Regions from separate parts of the Homo sapiens genome. Here region 1 is linked to region 2. A link means that fine-mapping ties the variant in region 2 to the expression of a gene that starts in the linked region. Tissue or cell type: left ventricle. Region 2 holds a variant in brackets; the other region holds the start of a gene. All regions are shown on one strand. Distances are from middle to middle.

Region 1 (12,912 bases), 35 kb after region 2:
GCGGAGCTTGTAGTGAGCCGAGACAGCGCCACTGCAGTCCAGCCTGGGCGAAAGAGACTCCGTCTCAAAAAAAAAAAAAAAAAATCATGTTTACGATTCCTTCTCAACAATGTGCTTCTCGTCTAGAAACACATACATTGTTCAATAGATATTTGTTCAATAATATTTTGTGGGGAAAAAAATCACTAGATTAAGAGCCTCCCCTGAACCTCTCCCAATTTAAAAAAAAAAAAAAAAACTCTCAAAAGCAAGGATATGTATACTTTATTCCCTCGCTCAAAAAATTATGTTCAAATATAATCTCTTTAAAAACTCCCTTATGGGGGAGTCTCTCAAATATCATTCCTCCCCTTGTCTTTCATTCTGCTCCCTATTGCCTATATCCAGTATTTCAGAATATAGGAAGAGGCAGAAGGCAGAGGCTTGCTTTTCACCCGCTTCCTCTGAGACAGCAACACTGTGACCATCTTCCTCAAAGATGCCTGGAGTTCTTCGGGATGTCAGTTCAGGAAAGACACAAAACAGCTCTGTATTGCAGAGACCTCCCTAAAACACCCCCCTCCCATATTGGATAATTTCAACATGGCAAGGACATCCATGTGTGAAGTTCTTATTGGAAACTTTTAACAGATATGGTTTAAATTTTAATACAATGGGCAATGTTTTGTTTTCTGGTGAGACAAATTCTTACAGCTGATTGCATGCAGGAAAAGCTTTATTAAGTCAATAAGCTGTTACACTTTTACAAACTGCTATGCAGAATACTCAAACATTTTTAAATGACATGAGAAACTACTAACATCTTTAGTGAGAGTCACTTTCACAATTTTCTCTGCTCCCACACCCCTAATGATCAACATATTCATTTTTTTATTTAGTATATGTCACGCAGCAATTTATCAAAAGCTTTTGTTGTGAAAACACTTTTCTTAAATACACAATTAAAAGATATGATTAAGCACTTACAGGATGTGAAATATTTAAAGGTAATACACAATAATCGGGTTACCAAAAGGACGCCTTCCAATTTTTCTTTCTATTCATTTTGATGTTTTGTTCTTTTCAAAACATTTTCTCTCATTACATTCATTACTAAAGGCCTTACTTTAAATACATCATGCTACATTTTGTTCTCCTCTTCAAATGCCAATGTTTTAACAATTTGAATTCTCTGGCCTGGGAAAAAGAAAAGTTATCCACTTACAAGGTATACGTATTGACAACATGGATGTTACAGTCCAAACAACAGCACAAAATCAACCATGTACATGTAACATAGTGAAATGAGTCCACGTTTTCTACACGCTACAGGATAGGAAGAGCTGGCTCTTAAGGCCCAGGGCTCACATGATTATGCACTTGTCAAGCAGCTTCTCAGTGGTGTTGGGCATCTGGGATTTCTTCTCGGGCTCCTGGAGGCCGGTGGTGGGCTTTTTCTTGTAATTCAGCAGCATGTGGAACAGCTCCTGCACATTCACATCGGTCTTGGCTGAAATCTCCATGAAGGCGCAATTCCACTCCATCGCACAGGTGGCACCATCATTCAGGGCCACCTCCCGGTGGGTGTCATCACTTTTATTGCCCACCAGCACGATGGGGAACTTATGCAGGTTGTTACCTTTGATCTTGCAGATCAGCTCATAGAAGGCCTTCAGCTCTTCCAGGGTTTCCTTCTTGGTGACTGAGTAGACCAGGACGAAGGCGTGGCCCCGGGCTATAACGTGGCGCTGCAGAGCGCGGTTGCCGTCGCCACTCTTGCTGTCGGTGATGTGCAGGGAAAGCACACCGTGGCTGCAGCCCAGCAACTGGCAGTAGGTATTTTCAATGGTCGGCAGGTACTCATGACGGAAGTTGCCGCTCGCCCACTTGTGCAGCAGCGTACTTTTCCCCACACCAGCGGTGCCGACTACCACGACGCGGTAATCTCTGATCTTCCTGTGGGGCTTGAAGGCGCGGAGGATAAGCAGGGCGGGCAGAAGCCGCAACCGCTTCAGCAGCTTCTGTTCCTTGGAGCCAAAGCTGGCGTTACCCATCGTTGGGATTCGGAGGGGAGATACGTGCACAAGTTCTCCCACACTTAGCTGGCAGCAGGAGACCCCTAGGAAGAAAGTGAGACGGTGAGAGATGGTAGTGGTAACCTACAATGTTGTCAGATCATGTCAGCCTGGCCAGCTGCTCCACTAGGACTCTGAAGAGAGTCCACCCTGTGACGTAAAGGGGTGCACACAGCGAGAAGAAAATTCCCAGGCACACAGTTCAGCCTGCTAGACCGAGGGACCAGCAGGTGATATATATTAAACAGACATGGTGGTTTGCTTTTTACCATCTAGAAAGTGCAGCAATACTACCTTTTGTTTTCTTTCCTTAAACTGTTTTATTAAATTCTCACTACACCCCTACAAGAAACACTCTCATTTCCTCGCTTGTAAAATTAAGATTTTAATTGAAGAGGACTGAACAGTCAAAGAGAAACAGGTGAGGGAATTTTCCCCACTCTATGGGGCTGAATGCCAAGGTGACATTTAGAGTGACACCGCCGCCCTGGTTAAAGCTACAGAGTCATCAGTACAGGAGAAAGGAGGGGGTTTTTGGTATCAGTGGTGTGGGATGTAGAGAGGGGAGGTACCTGCAGTCAGTGCAGCCCCAGAAGAGGCATGGGGAGCACCTTTGCTCTGAGCATGCTGTCACCATGTGCCACCAAGAGCTGAGGGAGGGGTCTTAGTTCATGAATCCTTAGTCACAATGACAGTGGAGTAAAAAAAAAAAAAAAAAAAAAAAAAAAAAAATATATATATATATATATATATATATATATATATGAACCTTTCTCTTCAGGATCTAATCTCTGATTAGAAAAGATTGTAAATATTGAATGAGTTTTTCTACAGAACAGTGGTTTTTCTTTTGCCATGGCTACTACCTTTAACAAAGTACTTTTAATTCAGCCTTATGGAAATAGAGAAAATTTCAGGATTTGAACAGTCAATGAACTTTTTGAGTTCAGGAATAAACATAGTAGATTAGGTTTGTAAGAAACTTTTCTCACAGGTATATCCTAAATACCAGACAGCTGCCCAGGGGGACTGCTTCAGAAGCATCCTAGGTCAGATGGAAAAAGTTCTAGGCACCATGCAGACAGACCACATAGCTGGCCTCTGGACAGAGGTAGGAATAGTACAAGGCAATGTCATTCCTGTGGCACTAGGTATAGAAATTTATACATGTTTCTAGGTGATGATGGTCCTTAAAATGCACTTCTCTTCAGGTACAGCTATGATTGTGTCATGTACAATACCAGAAAGAGAAGAGAGGCTTTTTGTGAATAGCACACTCCCTATATAAACTAGCCTGTCTTGCTGGCTGCGTAGTTGAACACATACTCTCCCAGTACTGGGGAAAAGGACCCTTTTTAGAATGTGCAAGTCCCATGAGAGAGTAATATGTCCATATTAGAGTTTTGGTGGTGGTTTTTTTTTTTTTGTTTTTTTTTTTTGAGTCAGGGTCTTGCTCTGTCCCTCAGGTTGGAGTGCAGTCATGCGATCATGACTCACTGCAGCCTCAACCTCCTGGGATCAATCAATCCTCTCACCTCAGCCTCCCGAGTAGCTGGGACTACAGGCATGTGACACCATGCCCAGCTAATTTTCTTATTTTTTGTAGGGACAGGGTTTTGCTATGTTGTCCAGGCTGGTCTTGAACTCCTGTGTTCAAGTGATCCTCCTGCATCAGCCTCCCAAAGTGTTGGGATTACAGGTGTGACACAACATACCCACCCCATATTAGAGTTTTCATTTGAAAAAAAAAAATGTTGTTGCTGGTTGTTATATCTTCAGACTTAACTTGCTTCTAATTCTAGTCTGGCTTCTTTAAGATAGTGTGATTCTAAGAGTGTTCTAAACTTAAGTGGCAAAATTTAAGTAGATGATTTTATATTCTTGATTAAAGGGGGCCAGGGAGGTTAATACAGTAAATATTTGAAATTGATATAAAATAAATACATACATATATCTAAACCATTCATTTTTGCAGCTTTCAGGTAAAATCTAGCACTTTATTCCAGTCTATGAGATGTGGTTAGTTGATATCATCTAATATTAAGTAATGACATCAGCTATCCAAATCCTGGGCACAATTCCTTTAGCAATGATGACCTTTAATAGAATTTAGCTTAAAAAACTAGGAGATTTCTGCTACAGTGATGCAATCTTTCACATCTTATTTATTAACAAAAATCAACAATCCAGCTTTCCTTAGGTCTTCACGCACTAAGAGTTCTCTAGTCACAGAAATCCTAGCCTTGTCTGCACTCTCCACAACTATTATAAACTCCATGTTAGTATCAAGAGTTCCAGTAAAGACCAAATATCTCTTGGCCACCAACATCCCACATTAGGAAATGTGCATTACTAATTATTCTGTTTTACATTACTTCCTGCTCTAGGGGATGTATGTACAAATTCATTCATAGAAAATTGGTAAAGCAGCCGGGCGCATTGGCTCATGCCTGTAATTCCAGCACTTTGGGAAGTCAAGGTGGGAGGATCGCTTAAGCACAGGAGTTCAAGACTAGCCTGGGTAACATAGGGAGACCGCCGTCTCTATCAAAAAGAAAATAAAAGAAAAAAAATTGGTAAAGGACACACGTGATAACTGAAGTTTCCAGATGTGAAGAGAATTCTCATTCTCAGGCAGTGGACCCCCCCCCCCACTCCCCTCCACACTCCTTCCACCTTCCCAGGCCACCTGGCCTCAGGCTGAGGGGGAGGTGAAAGTTTCCAGGAACCAGAGGGCGTCCAAACCCAGCGGCCGTGCGGAGCTCAAGGTCCCGCCGCTGCTGTTGCGGCACCAGCCTGGCTCATGGACATCACCACGCACCTGCAAGGTCAGGTTTCTCTCTGGTGGCTGTGGCGGCTGCTACCCTCCTCGCCCATTTCAATCTTACTTTCACACTACATGACTCCACTATTACTTCCTGAACACTAGCTACCTACGCAGCTGTAATAGTGGACACTGTGTCAACCTTTAAGCTCGCACACTTATCAAACCTCGTTCTTCTATATTAAAAAGTGCTAGCTTCCCAACGGGACTATCCAAAGTGCAGTTGCAGGACCTGCCAGGAGCCCGCAGGGCTGCGGGTGGTTCTTGCGTAATCGCGCCAAGAAAGACCTGGTTCCAGTTTCAGGGACAACTCGCCCATAAACTTCTACTGCGCAACAGCATCTGCTGCTTTGTCTGACACTTGTTGTTTTCAAGTACCCCTAAAAAAGCGAAAGAAAGACTTACCTTTCTCGGAGGCACGAACCAAGCAGCCTAGAAGACAAATGCGCTGCTCGGAGAGACTGCCGCGGCAACCAACTGGACACCCCAAGAGCTCACTCCTCCGCGGTTTTATATTCCGACTTGCGCACAGGAGCGGGGTGCGGGGGCGCAGGGAGTGTGGGTAACAGGCATAGATTCCGCTTGCGCAATACGTGGTAAGAAACCAGCTGTGAGGGGCTGGCCCAACGCAGAGCGGCGCGAGGTCCGCTTGGCATCTACAACAATCGAGGGGCTAGTCCAGAAGTTCAAGGCGGGGTTACAGGTTGGGGAGGAACTGTTAAACTGTGGACTTTTTCTCACCTGTTGGAATAAGCTTCAGGCAAAACTTTGCCAACAAAAACCGGTCCAACTGATTTTAGACGAAAGTCCAAAAGCAGTTTAATGCAGGACAGATAATCTTTTCCACAAATGATACTGAAAAGACAGGACATCTATAGATTCCCCCCCGCCAAAAATAACCCTTACATAAAAATTAAGTGGCTAGATATAACTGTGACGAGTAAAATTACAAAACGGTTTTAAAAAACAACAAACTATTGTCTAAGGCTAGGCAAAAGGTTCTTAAATTGACATTAGTGGCAAGACCGGTAAAAAGAAATGTTGATGAATTAGACTCCATAAATTTAAAACTTTTGCTTTGTGAAAGACCCTGTAACGATACTGAAAAGGTTTACCTAGGAGAAAATATTTACAAGCCATATATCTGGCATACAACCAGTATCTAGAATATGTAAATAACTCAAAAATCAATTATTTTTAAAAATCCAATTAGAAAATAGTCAGAAGACATAAACAGACACTTCACTGAAGATATGCAGATGGCAAATAACCATATGAAAACCTTTAATGTCATTAGCCATTAGAGAAATGGGAATACGAGGCTTTCGTTGTTCTTCGCCTCCCACTAGGGCGGGTTGAGGGTCTGGCTCCAGTAGCCCCGGGTGCCTCTCACTCCTTGGGCGCAATGCTACTATCCTGGCAGAACCCTCGCCGAACCCTCGCAGGACGCCCCATCGGGTCCGCCAGCGGCTAGGAAGCCCGATTGTGTCGTTCCTTTTTCCCTCTGCGCCTCCCACCGCCAGTCCCTTTTCCAAATGCGCCTGCGTCTGCCCTCCACATCTCCGAGCTCCGTCTGGCTTCTTTCTCCCTTGCCTGTGAGCGCCTGGCGGCGGATGCATTGAAAGCTGCGCACCACCGCCTACCGAGCGTTTTGGGGAGTGTGTGGAAGTTGTTGGCAGCAGGTTTTGACAGCAGTACCCTATGGGCCTAGTCGTTGACGGTAGCACCTGGTTTTGTGTGCCCCAGCCAGCTGAGGCCAGGGTGTGTGGTGTGGGCCACTGGTACTGCTCTTCTGCCACTATAATCCCTCCCCCTACCAGGTACCTGGTGCGTAGAAGTCTAAAGACCTGTGAGGTCTAGCCTGGCGCCTGTAATCCTAGAGAATAAGGAGGTTGAGGCCAGGAGTTAGAGACCAGCCTGGGCAACATGGGGAGAACTTGTCTCTACTTTAAAAAAATTTAGCCCAGTGTGGTGGTGGCCGCCTGTAGTCCCAGCTATTTGGGAGGCTGATGTGGGAGGATCACTTGAGCCTCCCACATCAAGGAGATCGAGGCTGCAGTGAGCCGTGATCACAGCCACTGTACTCCAATCTGAGCAACAAAGTGAGAACCTGTCTCAAAACAAATTCCAACCTGATTCTGGTATAGCATCACATGACAGGTAGCAGCCCTAAGGGCGATCAAAGTATTTTACCCCAAAATATATTTCTGACATATTTTGGAATGGTCCTGTGCAAAGCTATCTTTTGCGAGGGAAATTTGTGTTCTGTGGACAATCTCCTTCCCTTTCCAGGTCTTTCTCTGATCCGGGAGAGATTTAACTAAGAGTCTGACACCGTTTAAGGTCATTTACCTTTTGAGGTACATATGCCATCTATTCTTTCTGAAGCATATTACAGGCTTCACATATGTAACAAGAACCCTGGCTTCCACAACCTCCCTCCTGCCACCACTGGCCAAACCCCTCCTCCTCCAAAATGTACCGGCTTTCCAGGTCAAACCAATGTATACCTTACATATATTGACTGATGTTTTTGCCTGTATCTTCTGTCTTCCTAAAATGTATAAAAGAAAACTATAGTCCAAACACCTTGGACACATGTTCTCAGGACCTCCTGATGCTGTGTCACAGGCCGTGGTCACTCATATTTGGCTCAGAATAAACCTCTAAATATTTTACAGAGTTTGGCTTTTTTCACTGGGTTTCCCCACTCATTTTATTGGCATTAGCTCATACTCTTTCTGTCCAATCATATTTCTACATTGCTGTCTATATTTTATTAATCCTAAGTTAAAAATAGACAATTTCCTCTATATGCTTGGGTCATCATTCTGCAGGCTCCCATGTATACATATTAAATACATTTGTATGCTTTTTCTCCAATTAATCTGCCTTTTGCAGGTTGATTTTTCAGTGAGCCTTCACTGAAGTTTCCCTTTGGTCCCTGCACTGGTAATTAACTCAAACTGTTTTACCAAAATTTGATTCATAGCCTTTATCTCATTTTACCAGAAAAATAATTTGGATCCAACTGTTCTCTATAAACCAGCAAGTTTATATGTTTTACTATCTCACAACTAAAATTCTAAAATAAAAGCTAGAAGACCTTTATGTGTATATTTGTTTAAATATATTTACACATATGTACATGTATTATGTTGTATGTTATGTCTACATAATAAAATTCAGTGTGGTAGGCCAAAAATCCCTTAAGAAATGTTAATCTGATTGGTTTAAATAGATGGGCACTCACACAAAAACATAGTAATTAACCTAATTTTTTTAGTTCATGTAACTTAATCTTTAAAAAAGTAATTGGTTTTAAAATTGTTGATAAAATAAAATTAAAAACGTCTTTCTAATTGTCAATATATATTTTTGCCTGTGTTTACTGGTGTGGGGGCTATGGCTCTCAGCCCCCCAAAGATTTGCTGGAAAATCACTGACATGGGCCACATTGATTAGTAAGAGAAAAGACATACAAATGTATTTAATGTGTATACACAGGAGCTTTCAGAATAAAGACCCAACTTCTCAATGAGTTATAGAAGTTTATACACTAGTCTTGAAATTACAGAAAGAATGGGGGGCTTGGATTCTGGTAAAACAGATTATGGGAGGAGAAGAGGAATTTATTGAGGGGCAATGAATGATTGGTGAGAGAATGATTGGATTGAGCAACAGATATTAACTTGTAAATAGTTTTCTTTGGAATTTAAATAATCCTTGGAGGCAGTCATTGTACTTCTATAAAGGTCTGCTTGGGTGTGGTTACATTTTGGTCTTCTTTTCTTTAACAGATGAGATAACAGGAGGAGGAGAACCAACAATTGCTCTCCTTGGTGGGTCTGGTTGTTAGGCAGATAAAGGAACTTCAGCTTCTTTGGGAAGGATGGTGGGGTTGGAGGAAAAGTCAGAGAGACCTTGAGGCTTCTTTAGTTTAGCGTGTCAAATACCATGTTTTGGCATATCAGTTTCTGAGCACCAGCACTGGTCAGTTTTATATTTGCCTGTGCTATTAAGGTCATGAAGCTATAAACCAGGCCTAAAGCAAAGTGATATATATTTATGCAATTCTTTGATAAATAAGATTAATTTAATATTATTTAACAAAAACAGCTGTGGCTGGGTAGTGACTCCCACCTGCAATGCTAAAACTTGGAGAGGCCAAGGTGGGAGGATCACTTGAGCCCAGGAGTTTGAGATCAGCCTGGGTAACATAACAAGACCCAATCTCCATAAAAAAATTTAAAAATTAGCCAGGCATGTGCCTGTGATCCCAGCTACTCTTAAGGCTGAGGAGGGGGGATCCCTTGAGCCCAGAGTTCAAGGCTAGAGTGAGCTATGATCACACCACTGCACTCTAGCCTGGGCAACAGAGTGAGCCTTTGCCTGTAAGGAAAAAAACAAAAGTTGTATTTTCTGAGTTATCTACAGATACCCATGTATTTAACTTTATGGCTCTTATGTGGGTAAACACCTCATGTTAACAGGCTATATAATTATTTAATTTAAAAAAACTTGAAATAATGACCAGCTCCATCTAATATCTCAATTTTTGTAAGAAATATAGGTATAATTGTTAAAAAATAAATTAACTGTAAATGAAATAAATGTTTATAAATGAACTCATGTAATTTAAAGTCTTAAAATTTTATGTTAAATCATATATACAAAATAAATGTCTGTATCATAGTCAGATAAGATAAAATGATTGGTTATCCCACATTTTTAAAAAAAGAAAAATTATAGGACTAAGAGGTAGGGGTTAGGAAAATAAAAGGTCTAAAGTTGAAGAGGACTAATAAAGGATGAGCTAATAAAAGAAGTTTTATGTGTTATTGACTTGGCTGGAATTAAAAACAAATTGTTTGTGTGTTTTTCTAAAAATTAAACGTTCTCAGGTAGGGGACCAGGGGACAGGCACTGATACAGAACCAGAGTCTGGTTCCTTATATTTAAAACAACAAGATTTCTTGAAGTATTATCTGATTTTAATAAAATTTTAAGGGGTTTTGATTTTTAAATTTATACTCTGTTTTTAAACAGGTATCTTCTCCTTGACATCTATTTAATTTTCCTAGTTTTGGGTTAAAAATGTTGTCTTCTTGATTTAAAGTGGTAATTTCATTCCTTGAGGTACAGTTGTTTTTTTTTTTTTATTTCTCAAATTCATATTGCAGAAGTTCATCTTTTACAGTTTCTTGCTGTACATGATTTGCAGGTCAATATGTCATTTCCTTCATTTTTTTCTCCCCTGGAGAAGGCCTGAGATGATCATTCTCCTCTTTGGCTTTTTTTGGTTCTAACATTGCTGTTTTGGCCTGACATTAGAATATTTATCTTGAAGGCGTAGAAAAGCAGCGTTTTTCTCCAGTATAACTTAATTTTGTGCTCTTGGCTTTTCTTGATATGTCTGAATTTTTCCATATAACCAGAAAAGTTACTGTGGTAAGTAACAGCATGCTGTTACTAAGAACCATGTAGTTCCCTGCTCAAGGTACTAGTTTTCTTGTTTATATTCCTCTATAATATAGTGTATACTTATAACCTTGGACATATTCTTCCTGTGTTTCATGACATTCAAGTTCCCTTTTCATCAGGTTCAACTTCCACGTTATCTGAATGAGCTTCCCATAATGAAAAACAATCACACCGAAGAGGGCTTTCTTTACGTTTTTGGTAGCGAGTCTAAGAAACAAAGATTTTATGTTTTAGCAAACTAACTTTCTATGTTACCTTTATTAGGCTTTTGATTACTTAAAAAAAAATGAGTTTTAAAAGGGTTAAGGTTTCTAAATCCATGTGACTTTCTTATTGCTTTTGAAGTCTTTTGATTATGACACTGGTTAAATGAATAACTGTTATTTCACAGCAACCTGTGATTCTGTTTTGAACCTTTTAACATCTTTGACAAATGTCTCCCAGGTCAAATCCTATTTTAAGACTTTTTGACCTAAAATTAACTTTGAGATTTTTTCAGTTAGGCTCCTGGAAAACCTTAAAAGACATATTTCTCATTTTGTAGAGATGACTAGGCTTATTTGGTGAATTGTATAAAAACATCGTCAAATAAGTGATACTAGATTTTCTTTTAGTTACATTTATGTACATGTTGACATGAATGTTTCAAAAATTATATAAATTCATAGAAATCGAGTATGTTTTCAGTCATAATTCTAACATAATCTTTTGTTCAAATTATACTCATCGTCCCTGTTGTAGAGCTGGACATTCTCTGCTGTAATTCAACCCAGTCATAAAATTTTACCCAATGGCTACAACAGGACTCAAGACTCAACCAGTTTCCTACATGGTCTTTTGATTTCTTTAGTTGGTTACCTTCAACAGTAGGTTCATGGTTTAGCACCAGTATTTAGACCAGACTGATTATATTAGTGGGTTTTTTTGTGTGTGTGTGTGTTATGATTTTTAAACTTTTTTCTTATTACTTGACTAGTCTTTGTAAAGCCAGCTCTCCCAACAAGATAATGTTAGCCCAGCAAGATGATTGACTAGACATAGCCAGGTAGAATAGCTTCTACCAAGGGACAGAGACAGCTGGTATACTCCTAACAGATTTTCAGAGGGAAGGCTGCCCCTACCACTTCCCTCCAAAAATGATGTAGGGAAGACACAGAAGCTGGGCTGAAGTGGGGAGAAACCTGGGAACACTCTATGGGGCTACCGTGCACCCGGACTCTTTCCTTGACCCCAGTGGCTCTGAGGGCATGGGTGAGTTGAACTTGCAAGGAGCAACACATTCTTGCCATAGGCCTCTGGAACCCCACCAGGAGGAGACCCCTCAACCACCATGGACACTTGAATTGGCAGGAAGGGCTACTTAGAGAACTGGTAGGGGCAGCAAGCCAGCTGATGTGGAGCACAGAGGGTTTGGAGCAGGAACATCTGTAGTGGAGCATGGCCAGGGACACCCATCCCCCTTGGATCAACTTACTTCCATAGGAGACTTTAGCCCCAGGGGAACTGTTAGTCCTGAACTCTGTAGGGCAATCTTGCCCATCAGTTGGGGCTGGTCCAACCTGAGCACCCCTTGCTCTGCTGGCCTCCCCCAAGGCCCTAGCCTAGCCACACCTGCTTGCAGGGCAATCTCAGGCACGTGGGGGCCCACATCATAGTTTCTGTGCTGGCGGACTGTGCCTGACTGGAAAGCTCTAGCTGGGTGGCCCTCACAGCCCACATACTCCCTCCCCACATTGCAGCTTCCCTGAGACCCACAGCAATTCCCAACATTGCTTCGCTGGTGCATATCTTTGCAGACAGGTTTTGCTTTCCTTGCCCTGCCATCTCACCAGTATGTGTGCACCTTACCCTGCCACTGCAGCGCGAGAGTGCAGTCTGACCCTCTCTCACTGCTGACCATCATTGCAGATGGAGCCTTGATGAGCACAGAGCGAATTCTGCCCCGACGGTGCCCTGCCCTTGCACTAACACTGCTGTGGGAGTGAAACTAGGTGCAGAAAACAACAGATCTCTCCCTGGCCTGAGCAATTACTCATGCTTGTGAGGCACAGAGAAAGCTCACAGACCTGCACCTGCCAGCATCCAGCTCCCAAGCCAACACCACAACCAGTGCAGCCATGCACACCCTCACCAGCAGGGGCCCCTGCTCCCCCTAGCTGCATTGCCTCCACCACTATGGTGAATACCCTCAGGGAGGCAGGCACCCTAGTACCCTGCCGCAGTTGCCACTACCACTGCTGCTGGTACCTGTGAATGAGAATGGATCCCACTATAACTGCACTACAAATGCTTTGGCTGACACTGTGGGCAGCAAGCCACCCAGGTGCCAAGGCAAGAGACCAAGGGCACGAGCTGTTCCAGTATAATAAAATATATAAAATAAGAATAGTTATACTAGATATAGATCTTAGATACGATTTTATATGAATATCATTAATCATTAGTTTGTAGTAATTACTCTTTATTCCAATATTATAATAATCCTCACTCTACAATCATAACCTAGGAAAAACCAGGCCATACAGAGATAGGAGCTGAGGAGACATAGTG
Region 2 (12,912 bases):
CCCAGTTCTGTTCTTACAGCCTTTCAACTGATTGAATCAGGCCCACTCAGAAGAGCTGGGATAATCTCCCTGATTCAAAGTCAACTGATTATGGACTTTAATCATATGTATAAAATACCTTCCACAGCAACACCTAGATTTGTGTTTAATTGAATAACTGGGGAGTATAGGCTAGTCAAATAGGTAAAATAGAATCACAGAGAGCCATTGAATGGTTTAAGCAAGGTAGTAATATGATCATGCTTGCTTTAGATAAATACACCCTCTGGTGGCTAGGTAGAGGAAGAAGGAGCTGGAGGTTCTTGTAATAGACAAATTAAAGAGATATTAATTGCCTGAATTAGCACTATAACACTGAGTTTGAAGAGGAGGGTTGAATTACCATAAATATTTTGAAAGTAAATATTTATAAATGTATTTATATATAATTGTAGGTTCAGTTACACAGACAGTGTAGGGTTGGTATATAGAGTAAGAGTAATACTCTGTCTCACATTTTACATTACATCCGTCTACCGATCATCTATTAACCTCTTGGAGTTGCCATTTTCTTATCTGTACCTTTTTCCCTCAATAAATACGTTTTTTTCCAAGTTCTGACAATAAGCCCCATGCTGAAAGCCCTGGTTATCTGAATTGCCTTCCATTTATCCTTGTATTTCCTGCACAAAACAAAGACCACAGGAAGTGAGTTAGAATACTCTGGAAGATGAGCATATCTCATTTCCTTAGGAGTATATTGCAAAAACCTGTCTACCGAAAAGTAACACTTATGGACTGACTAAATGCATGCCCAAGCTTAGAGAAGCTGCAAGAACAGGAGTAAGCAATCCAAGAGGCCCAGGTGGCCTAGAATGCATCAATTTGTATTTATCAGTAGGAGCTCTGCTCCTGGATGAATGCAGGAGTTGAAGCTGACTCTGCTTCCCTGCCCGTGCTTCTAGAGCCTTTTGTGGGCTCCTGTGTTAGCAGTGCCAATGCCCCAGAGAAATCAATCACAAGACCTGAATTTGAGTCCTCCTGTTTCTTTATGTGGTCCTGGGAGGTGGCAACTCTAAACTTTGGGACAAAGGACAATCTCCAACTACCGCTGACCTTGGACTGCTAAGTTTCAAGGGCAAGATACATAGAAAATGAACCTGAACAAATGGTTTCTTTTCATTATCAGCTGTGATTTGAACCTAATTTCTCTGTAGAGCTCTTAGTCCCAATGAGCAGAACTGGGAAAATGTTAAGGACTCTCTTTGCACTTTTAGCTTAAGGTCTAGGCTAGGAAATGCCTCAGAAGACAAATGAAGCCTCCCTTCCCCTGATCCCCTATGTTGTGGTACCCTTGTGGTGTCTACTTGACCTTCCCAGGACATGGATACCCCTTCCTTAGCCTCATGAGAGAAGAGATATTTCCAAAGCCAAATGTAGAAGACAAAAAAGGGAAAGCTGAAGATCTAACATTCAGATTCCAGGGTTGTTTTTTTTTTAAATCATTTTCCTTATCACACTGAAATCTCTGCTCCAACCCTGAGCCTCTATCCTCCTTGGTCTTGATCCAAATCAGTACTTTAGTGCTCCACAGAGACGGAGTCGGGGCGATGGAGGGGGTAGTCTTGGCCTCTCTCTAGAGGCTGCCTTTCCCCCAAACCCTCTCTAACTGTAACTAAATCTGTTTGCTTGTATTAGTGGAGAAATTGAGTTTCAGAAATCATTATGCAGTTCATGTGGGTGCTAACATTTAGGTAAGCTGCCTGACAGCAGAGCTATAACAAATCATTGCTTATTGCTATGCTGCTCTGTAGAGTCCTGAGAGAAAGAGTCTATAGGCTGCTGTGTGTCCTTGGGGCAGCCAGAGCCACAGCTTTTGCCTTTCAGTGGCTTTGTGCAGGTTGCTGTCAATTTTTTTAGAGGGACCCCTCTGTTCACCACCAAACCCAGCCCAACCCCCTTCTGTGAAGTCTTCACCGCCCCCATTGCTGCTCCCCCAGCAAAAGTATAATGAATCACCTCCCTCCTCTGCCATTGCTCTAATAGCACTCTTTTATTATTGTGCTTCAAGCATGATTGTTTTCATTCTTTACTGAGCTACTGTCTGCTTAACACTAGATAGGTTATTTAAGCCTTAAAAGAGATTCTCTCTGCCCTCACAAAAGTCCACAGTCTTTAGCATGACTCATCTGCCAGCCTCATCTTGTACCATGCCTCCCTCACTCTCTGTTAACTTAACTTCAGGCAATGGGGAGCCAGGGAATGTTTCAAAGCAGAGGAGAAACCCAATCATGTTTGTGCTTTTTCCAGATGACTCTGGTGGTAATGGAGGATGCAATAGTTGGGAGGAAGACCGGAGTCTAAGTTACTGTAAAGTGGTTCTTATCATGTGAAAGATGATGAGGTTGGATCCAGCACGGGGGCAGTCAGAATAGAGAATACATATACTTTGATTCTAATATGTTTAGTATTTTTCATGTAAAAAATGCCACTTAGATCTCTTAATCAGCAAAACAGGAAAGGAATTGCTGTGTATGGATGAAATGAGATAGGGGATGAACAGCACCTGGCATGAAGCCTGGCGCATAGTCGGTGCTCAGGAACTGCTTCTTGTCTGCTCCCTTCCACCTGCAGCAGGCACAGCTCTGGGCTCTCATCCTTCTTCTGGAGGAGAGAAGAAGGGAGAAAAGCGATGTGGCAGCAAACCAGGGCAGCGACCTCATCAGTTACAGGTGAAAAAGATGGACCTAAATTGTTCGAGCAAATGAATGAATGGCCTTACTGCTCTTGCAGACCAGTGGTATATCTATTCATCCAAGATTCAGATTTTAACTAGGAACAGCAGGAGGATAAGTTTCTACAGTAAAGACAGTTGTTAGAATTCACAGAGCAGAGAAGCTCTTTAAGAGACAAGATTCCTGATAGTCTTTTCACGAGGAAGAAGAATATTGATTACAAGAGAAGGTTCTATGTGTGTTAGGCCCTATGCCCTCTCCTGCCTCAGGAGAGGAGAGGATGCCCTGTGAGCATCAGTTCCATTTGGTGATCTTTTTCATTTCTCCCTGTTTCCTTCATTCATGGCTGCTTCAAGCCAGGACAAGGCAAAATAAAGAAATTCTGACCTTCAGCAACTTCTTTATGCTCTCAGAATCTGCTTTTTCAATCTGTAGTTTAGAAATAATCATATTTGCCCCACAAAGTTTTTGTTAGAATTGAGGCAGAGGAAAAGAAGCTCTGCAACATTATATATCCACCTTAAATCCATGCATTGGCTACAGAGGTTCCTCCAAAAACACTGAACAGGTTGCTTAACTTAAAATATAATTTTATATATATATATAAAATATATATATAAAAGGAAATTGCTAAATCAAAATGAAAAAAAAAAAAGAAAAGGGCTTCTCACTGCCCTTAAAAAAGTCAGCAGTCGACAGCATAACTCATCTGCCAGCCTCATCTTTTACCATGCCTCCCTGGCTGTCTGTGCTTTGGCTGTATTGGCCTTTGTCATTTGTGAGAGATGCCATGCTCTTGCCAGCCTAGGCCTTTGCACATACTGTACCCATGCCTGGCACATTCTTGCCTCTTCTCTCCACCTGACCATCTCTTATCCCTCTTTTAGAATTGATATGGTTTGGCTTTGTGTCCCCACCCAAATCTCATCTCAAATTGTAATCGCCGGTGTTGAGAGAGAGACCTAGTGGGAGGTGGTTGGATCATGGCGGCAGTTTCCCCCATGCTGTTATTGTGATAGTGAGTGGGTGAGTTCTCATGAGATCCGTTGGTTTTACAAGGGGCTCTTCCCCCTTCACTCTCTTTTGACTGCTGCATGTAAGATATGCCTGCTTCCCCTTCTGCCATGATTGTAAGTTTCCTGAGGCCTCCCCAGCCATGCAGAACCGTGAGTCAGTTAAACCTCCTTTCTTTATAAATTACCCAGTCTCTGGCAGTTCTCTATAGCAGTGTGAAAATGGGCTAATACAAGGATCCAGGTTAAATTCACTTCAGTCATTTAAATCACAAATATTTATTGAGTGCCTACTATGTGCCAGGCACTTTTCTAGACAATGGGGAAAGTAGCAAATAGGAAGGCAAAGTCCTATGAATCTCGTATTCTAGCACTGGGGAGACAGAGGGAAAACAAGCAGGCAATGAAGGAACAAGATAATGCTTTAACGGTGGTATTGAGAGGCAATACAAGGGTAATCAGATGGGTCAGGCCAGGCTCTCTGGAGGGTGGTGGTTGGGTGGGAGAGGGTGGTATACATTAGATTAGATCACTTCTTAGTGATATGAGCTGTGAGCTGAAAGATTAAAAAAGGATACTCCCAAGAGAGGTAGCAGCAAATACAATGGCCTGAGGCAGAGATGAGCTTTGTACAGTCAAAGGGAAAAAAGGTCATGGTTCCTAGAACACTGTGATGGAGTTAGAGAAGCATAAGATAAATCAAAGAGGTGGGTGGAGCAGAACATCTAGGGCCTTCTAGGCCATGGGTCAGGGCTCAGATATTAAGTCTAAATGGAAGCTATTGGAGCATTTTAATTTACACTTACATTTAAAAAATATTACCCTGGATGCTAAATGGAGAATGCCTGGTAGAAATGACAGGGAGAAATCACAGGGTGGCAGGGAGAGGGAGAGGGAGTTAGGAGGAGTGGCAAAAACTTTTGGATGATCTGTACAGGATGCAATGTGGAGATATTGGTGACTCAGATGATACTACCCTTGAGGGGTTAATATCAATATCTTCATCTGGTAGATAAGGGAATTGAAGAGAAGTGGGGTACACTTTGGAATTAAATCCTATAGATCTTGTTCATGGATTGGGTGGTAAAGGTGAAGAAAGGAGATGAGACAATAGGAAGAGCAAGGAAGGAAAACACGCTGGGGAGAAATGAAGATTTTGGCATCTGCTATATTAAATTACTTTCTTATGGAAGACTTCCCTGATCCCCAGTCCTGGTTAGAGCTTTACATTGGTTGCTCCCAGAGCAATGTGTAGCTCTCCTTTGTAACACTCCAAACATTTTATCATTTGTCATTATTTGTTCCTTCACTAGACCTGATGGGAGGAACCCACCTTTCTTGTTTAATGCTATCTCTCCAGTGCTTTGCACAGTACCTGGCATGTAATTATAATATAATATAACAAAACATATTATTATAATAATCTGACATCTAATATAATAATATTAATAACAAACAACACTTAAAGAGTAGTTTCTCTGTGTCAGGTCCTATTCTGAGTGCTTTACAGGTGATTTTCACAGCAGTCCCCTGAAATGGGTACTGTTATGTTTGACAGATATGCAAACTGAGGCACAGAGAGAGTAAGTAAACTTGACCAAGGTCACACAGCTAGCAAATGCCAATAAGTGAATATTTTACAAACGATACATTGTTTATAGTTCACACCACCACAGTGAGGTATGTTTTTGTGTTCCTATTTTAGGTTTGAGCAAAGTGAGACATAAATCTGTTTGAGGTGTTGATACTGGGAAGTAGGGTTGGCAGGATTTGAACTGTCCAGAGACAGGCTCACTCAGTTTGTGAATGTTGAGAGCGTTCACTGTGGGGCCAAGCTGACTCAGTCTGAAATGTGTCCCTGCCACTTACTAGCTAGGCATGTGAGACTTTGGCTGAATTAAATGCTTTGTACTTCAGTTTC[T/C]TCATCTGTAAATTGACACTATTAACAGTGCTTGTCTTCAGGAGGACTGGATGTAATATTTGAAGAGCCCTTAGAATACATGTAGACTTTATGGAAAGGACCTACAGTTTGCCTATAGATAAAGCCAAGGAAGGAAGGTCCACTGCTCCCCAAGTCTTCTCCACGGGTCATTCATCCTGGATTAAGATGTTAGAACTAAACAATCATTGTGGTTACGGTTGACACTCATCTAATTCACTGCCTCCGTTCATTATATAGATAAATAAGCTGGGGCGTGCTGCGAGGGTAAGTGAATGAGATGGGACAAAATCCTGGGGAGCCTCCCGGAAAAACATGATACCTTCTGTATGTTCGAGGTTTCATAAAGATGAGTTATATAATCTCCAGAGCTAGAAAATCAGGCAGGCCCTTTTTGTGATTGAAAGAAAAACCTTCCTAATCATTTCTAAGACAAGCTCTCAATTTTCTTTGATTTGGGAATCAAAGAGAACAGGGAATATTATGCTCTTCACTGATGTTCTATTTTTTTTCCTTCTGCCAATCAAAAAGGAGGCCTAGGCAGCGTTGATTTTTTTTTTCTTTTACTCTTTCTTCCAGACCTCTGGTGGAGGTGTTAATAAAAAGTGAATCAGTCAAATCCCAGCTTATCAGGAGGAGACAGAAAAGGGATAAAAATTCAGGGTAGTCAAGCGCCACATAATAGGGATTACCTATTTTGAAGCTAATTTGACAATAAGGTGTCTGAAAAGCCAGTCTTCCCATTTCTTTAAAGTGCTTTGTCTGAGTTGTATGCCTTTCTGTCAGGCAGTGAACTAACTCAATGACGTCAGACTTCGTTTCTACTTCCAAAACATAAGTGGTAACTTACCCAGTCCCTGGTCCACTGAGCAAATCTGGCTTCAAAAAGAAACTGTCCTGATCTGACACAATCCAAGTCAAAATATTTGAAACCCTATTTGAAACTGTGGTCTGGCATAATCCACATGATTCAGGGCTAGGTTCTCATAAACTGACTCAAAAAACATGCAATCTTCTGGTAGAACTTTTGCCCAGGGCTGGTAAACATGCAAATTATTGCAGTCTTTTCAGAAAGTAATTTGGAAAAACAGATCAAGAAGGTTTAAAAGGCTCATATCTTTTAACCCAGGCTTGAGAAAATATTCAGAGACAGGACTGAGTTTTATACACAGGTTCTTCCTTGAAGCACTATTTGCAACTACAAAAACAAAACAGGAATCAAAGAAAATATCCAATAATTAACAAATTGCTTACATCATATTTCAATCATTCCAATATGTGTTTTCTTAAAAGAAATGTTTAGTGGCATGTGGAAAACATTCCCAACATGCACAAAGAGAGAGAAAACCCAGGGTTACAAATTACAAATAATATGATTTTAATTTTTTAAATCAATCCCATCCATCCATCCATCCATCCATCCATCCATCCATCCATCCATTTGTCCATTCTTTATCTCTTTATCTATCTAGGGGATATAGGCCTAGAAAAATAACTGAAAATAAATAAATATGTTAACAGTAATTATCCCAGTATATTGGCCTCTTTAGTATTTTTCATCTTTGCACTTTTCCATATTTTCCAAATTTCCTGTGGTGACCATGTCCTACTTTATAATAAGGAAAAGAATGATAAAGACTATCATTTACAGAAACAAGACAGCCCTTATCTCTTCTTTGAACTGCAAAAACACCTAACAACATATTCTCCTTCTCCTTCAATTTGTGTGCTACACGAGCTGCCATATTGATTTTTCTGAACCATTCTTTTTATTATAACATCCTTTCCCTTAAAGATTCTCTGGCTCCTCACTGCTTATATAAATAATTGTTAAACTACTTAACCTGGCTTTCCCGGCCTTCAGAAATCTGGTCCTGTTATACCATCTGTGGATTTTTATTAGTATTTTTTCTCCTTAAATCTCCATTCAACAGATATTTATGAAGCACCAGCTCTGTGCTAGGCTGGCTTTTCTCCTCACCTCCCAAATTCTCCACAAGTGGCCTCTTCCCTGGCCCAGCCTCATGTGCTCCCACCTGTAAGTCTCTGTTCCTTGGCATGCTCCTTATTGCACCCATTGCAAAAGATGCAATGTGTGTGCACCATCCTCTCAGAGACTTCTGTTTATCCACCCAACTTGGGCACATGCTCTAGGGACTTAGGCAAGTGCCTTAATCCCTCATTGCCTTCATCTTCCCATTTGTATAATGGAAACTACAGTGGCAATATGTAATCTATTCATTTGTTGTGAAGATCCAAAGAGCTGATATATGTAAAATGCTTAGGACAGTGTCTGGCACAATGTAAAAGCTCAAGAAACATTTCTTATTTGTCTTGTAACTTCCTTCAAGGTAGGATCCTAGTCTCATTCCAATTTACAACTCCCATGGAACCTAACCACCTTGCTCTGTCTCTAGTTGGATACTGAAGAAATTCTTGTTGAGTAATGTATGAATGAATGGCAGCTGCTATAGACTGAAGGTTTATGTCTCTCCCCACTATTCATATATTAACACCGAATCCCCAATGTGATGGCATTTAGAGTGGAGACTTTGGGAGGTGATTGGGTCCTGAGGGTATAATCCCTCATAATAGGATCAGTGTTCTGTAGGAAACAGCCCAGAGAGCTCCCTAACCCCTTCTACTGTGTGAGGATGCAGCAAAATGGCCATCTATGAACCAGGAAGCAGGCCCTCACCAGACACTGAATCTGTCAGAGTCTTGATCATGGACTTCCCAGCCTCCAGAACTATGAGAAGTAAATTTCTGTTGTTTATAAGCCACCCTGTCTATGGTATTGTTATAGAAGCCTGGATGGACTAAGACAAAATTTATATGAGCTTTTACTGACCATGTATATCCCTTCTCCTTTTGGACACTCTGTCCCTGACTATAAACCGTACCCATATCATTCATCACTTGTGTGGTCAATGTTGGTGCTATTCATTGTGATTATGGTCAAACCCTCTGCTGTAGCTGTACAACTTGGCATCAGATTTCTTCTGTTCCTGAAGCATTGTGGTGGTAGATGCTTAATAATCTTGCTCACAGATTTCTATACTGTTCCCATTTTTCCATAGCAAGTTGCAGAATAGCTACCTTATGTTTTCCAACCTTAATTTTCTTGGCCACAAGCCTGAAGGAAATTACATTAAGTCTTTCACTTTAAGCCCATGCATTGCATTATCCCAGATGAATGCACTAATTCATTTGAAAATTAGAGAAAAATAGACAAATGATGGTATAAAAAAAAAAGTAACTGATTTATTTAGGGACCACTATTTGCCAGGTTCTGCAATAATCCCTTTCATACAGTTATCCTGTTAAAAATGTGAAACACATTTAGAAGCTGTGTGACCACAGTCAAATCAAGTTGTTCCCTCTAAGCTTTGGCTTGAGCTTTCCCAGGCTGTACTATTGCCTGCCCAAATGCCGCTTCTGTTTTCTGCCCCATCTGTCAACAGTCTTCTAGAAAATTCTATTTACAAATAAAAAGTAGAGTTAATTATTTCCTATTTCAAACCTATTCTTCCTTCTATGTCCCTGCCATCCATTCAGCTGCCCAAGTCAGAAACTTAGGAGTCACCCACCCACCTTTCCTACCCCCACATGACTGCCCTGACTACAATTCAGGCCACTTTCATGTCTCATCTGCTTTAGGGCAACAACCTCCTAATTGGTCCCCCTTTCATAACCCCTTCTTGGCTGATCTAATCTACTTTTCTCATTGTAGCCATGATCTTTGCAAAATAAAAAAGTGGCCCTGTCACTCTCTGGCTTTTAAGCCCTCAACAGCTCTTCATGAACTCCATAAGATATCATCTAGCCCCTGCTTCTCTCTCAAGTTTTATCTTTTCAACCCATCAGTTTTTCGGTTATATACTTTGAATTTTATGTGCTACATGAGAGGTTCTCAAAGTGTGGTTGTAGGACCAATGGGGTTTCCGTGCCCTGTCAAGGAGTCTTAGGTCGAAACTATTTTCATAATAATACTAACATATCATTTGCTTTATTCACTTTCATTTTCTCATGAGTTTATGGTGGAATTTTCCAAAAGCTACATGATGTGTGCTATTGTAACAGATGGAATGCAAAAGTAGATATGAGAACCCAGCTAACTGTCTTTGATTAAGCCAGACATTACAGAGATTTGCAAAGATGTAAATCTATACCAGCTTCTCACTATTTTTTTTTGAAAAATATACTTGTTTTTTATAAAAGATATTTTTGTTAGCACATAATGCATAATGGGTTTATTATTATTTTAAATTAATAAATATACAGATTTAAAAATGTTTACAGTTTCAACATTTAATATGGTAAATACCAAGAAATATATCCCACATGAACAAAATATTTTGAGGGTGCTTAATAATTTTTAATATTACAAAGGGGTCCCAAGACTAGAAAGTTTCAGAACCACTACTCTAGCAGTGGAACCATTCAGAGCACCCCAGAATATGTTCTGTCACTTTCTCTCCCAGCCCACTCAGTGCTTCTCCATCACCATAATGGTTTCTCTCTGCTTCTTCTCTGTCTGCTGAATTCTCCTGCACAAGAGTCACCACTTAGTGAAAGCATTCCTTTGAGCTTTACAAGAGTAGCTACAAGGCTGACTTTTGCTGAAGGCCTCTTGTATGCTAAGCAAATAATTGCTTTACCTGCATTTTCTCCTCCTTTTTTTTTTTTTTTTTTTTTTTTTTTTTTTTTTTTTTGAGACAGGGTCTCACTCTGCCTCCTGGACTGGAGTGCAGTGGCACAATCTTGGCTCACCACAACCTCTGCCTCCCAGGCTCAAGCAATTCTCCTGCCTCAGCCTCCTGAGTAGCTGGGATTACAGACACGTGCCACCATGACCGGCTAATTTTTGTATTTTTAGTAGAGACGGGGTTTCACCATGTTGGCCAGGCTGGTCTTGTACTCCTGACCTCAAATGATCCACCCACCTTGGCTTCCCAAAGTGTTGAGATTACAGGTGTAAAACATCATGCCTGGCCCACTTTTTTTGTTTTGTTTTGTTTTGTTTTTTTGAGATGGAGTCTTCCTCTGTCCCCTAGGCTGGAGTGCAGTGGTGCGATCTCGGCTCACTGCAACCTCTATCTCCCGGTTTCAAGCAATTCTCCTGCCTTAGCCTCCCAAGTAGCTGGGATTACAGGCACGTGCCACCACACCTGGCTAACTTTTTTGTATTTTTAGTGGAGATGAGTTTTTGCCATGTTGGCCAGGCTGGTCTTGAACTCCTGACCTCAGGTGTTCCGCCCACCTCAGCCTCCCAAAGTGCTGGGATTACAGGCATGAGCCACCGCACCTGGCCTTCTCCTTTAAGTTAGGCTGAGGCAAGGCCAGGGAGGGTCAGGGAGGAGGAAAGATAACATCAGTTCTAGTCTAGACCTAAGAAAACTTAGGCTCAGAGAGGTTTAGAAGCTGCTCAGGTCACAGAGCTAGTGAGTGGCACAGTTGATTTGAATTCATCCTCTTCCCACTCAGTGGTTCTTATAGTTCTATGTGCTATGGTGTGCTGGTGAATAATAAACAACTGGCTCTCCAATAGGACAAAGCCCTCATTAGTAGTGTTTGGCAATTTCCATGGTGTAAATGCTCCTGCAGTGGCCAGTTTCAGGCCGCCAACATGACATCATTGAACAGAGAGATCAAAAGGGGTGTGCAGTCGTCCACATCATAGAGCATTTTCACCACACACATAAAAATGATGAAAAACTCAAGAGCACAGGTAATAGTTAAGTGTGGTAAAGTAATTGGGAATTACAGTGATGAATTCTGAGTATTTTGAATTTGAGCATATTTGTTTTAAATATAATTTCTGTAATTATAAGTTGATCTAATCTACTTGTTTATAATTGTTAATAATTGCGTGTTTAGCAACCAACTTGCATAATTCCCAAATATGTAACAATTGACTCTTGGACCTCAGAATTAACTTTCAACCTTTGGACATCACAGATGTTTGAGCCCTCTTCCAAACCTACTGAAGCCACCTCTCCATGCTGGTGTCCAGGCAGCTGTGTTTTTACCAAGCCCTCCAATCTCATCTCATCATGCACACAGAGAGTCATTTGTTCATTCTTCCCTCATTCACCAAGTCAGCACACATTGACTAAAGGCCTACATTATGTCAGATACTGTTTCAAGGTGCCTACCTCATGGTCCACATTCCTACCAGACGGTATCCTCATTTAGAGCAGGGATGGAGCCTATCTCCCAGAGCTTGGTGCAGAGTCTAATGCATCATACAAACTTAATAAATGTTTTTGCTGGAACAAAATAATAACAAGAAGCCAGGTTTTGCCTGGCTCAGCTCCAATCAGCCCAAATCTCTGGGATTGGAGAGCATAAGCATCAAATGTGGGTTGGCATGAGATAGGTTTGGGTTTGAGTCTGATTCTTGGACAAGTAAGTTAGTCTACTACTTTTCCATTTCCTCTGCTGTAAAAATACTAATACCCACTTTAGAGGGCGGTTGTAGGAATTACACACAATCATGTTTTTATCGCATCCTTAGCAAAGTGTCCTGGTCACATTATCTGAAGAGCATCCTTGGCCACTCTTGGTTCCTTCATCCTGTGTTATTTTTCTTCATTATGCTTATCATTGTTTGATGTTATAGTATGTATGTATGCATGTCTGATATTTAGGTATTTTATTATTGTGCCTCCTCCCCATACTACCCACCCACTAGAATGGTGTTCTATTAAGGGAAAGACCCAGTTTGTTACATTCATCTCTGTATCCTCAGCACCTAGAAAAGTCCCCAATACCCAGTAGGCTTCCAGTAGATATTTGACAGATAGATGAATGGATGGACAGAGAGCCTAGTATTTGTTGGTTATTAGTAAAAACATTATGTTTTTTAAAAATACCTCCCTCTGAGGCTACAGTGAGCCGAGTTCATGCCACTGCACTTCAGCCTGTGCGACAGAGTGAGACTCCATCTCAAAAAATAATTAATTATTTAATTAATTAAATAAAAATAAATAAATAAATAAATAAATTAAAAAAATTACCTCCCTCTGGATTAGGGACCCTGTTGTGTGTCTCACTTGTACTCCAGGATCTAGAATCTGCTTCCTTCTTGTACATGTGGCACATGCCATGGCCTCCTCCAGCTCCTGGCCTGTCCTCATCCTTGTAGTTCTAAGTCTTATAGTGACATCATCTTTTCTCCTATTGTGTTCCGGTATTGTAAGAAGGTTACTTGTGAACTTTTCTTCCTGACTCTGCCAGGAAA

Which allele goes with the higher level. Positions count from the first base shown, and alleles are read on the strand shown. Sizes are in standard deviations (SD) of each study's normalised expression.
In carriers of allele C in region 2, the expression in left ventricle of the gene that starts at base 5,363 in region 1 tends to be lower than with T alone (moderate effect, 0.50 SD a copy in GTEx).

Evidence for each region.
Region 1: DIRAS3 starts here. The variant in region 2 is fine-mapped to the expression of DIRAS3 in left ventricle (GTEx, PIP above 0.99).

What each region holds. Positions count from the first base shown.
Region 1 is chr1:68,045,265-68,058,176 of GRCh38, forward strand. It overlaps DIRAS3 (DIRAS family GTPase 3), which reads right to left and starts at 5,363. Exons shown (of 2, transcript NM_004675.5): 1 at 5,284-5,363; 2 at 698-2,098. The coding sequence starts at 2,033. The coding sequence ends at 1,344. All of the region lies in intron 2 of GNG12-AS1 (GNG12, DIRAS3 and WLS antisense RNA 1), which reads left to right. It also overlaps the pseudogene ARL5AP3.
Region 2 is chr1:68,010,034-68,022,945 of GRCh38, forward strand. The region is part of intron 1 of GNG12-AS1 (GNG12, DIRAS3 and WLS antisense RNA 1); the gene reads left to right. Among named protein-coding and RNA genes, the nearest start is that of DIRAS3, 34 kb to the right of the region's middle. The variant T/C (reference allele first, on the strand shown) is at 5,649.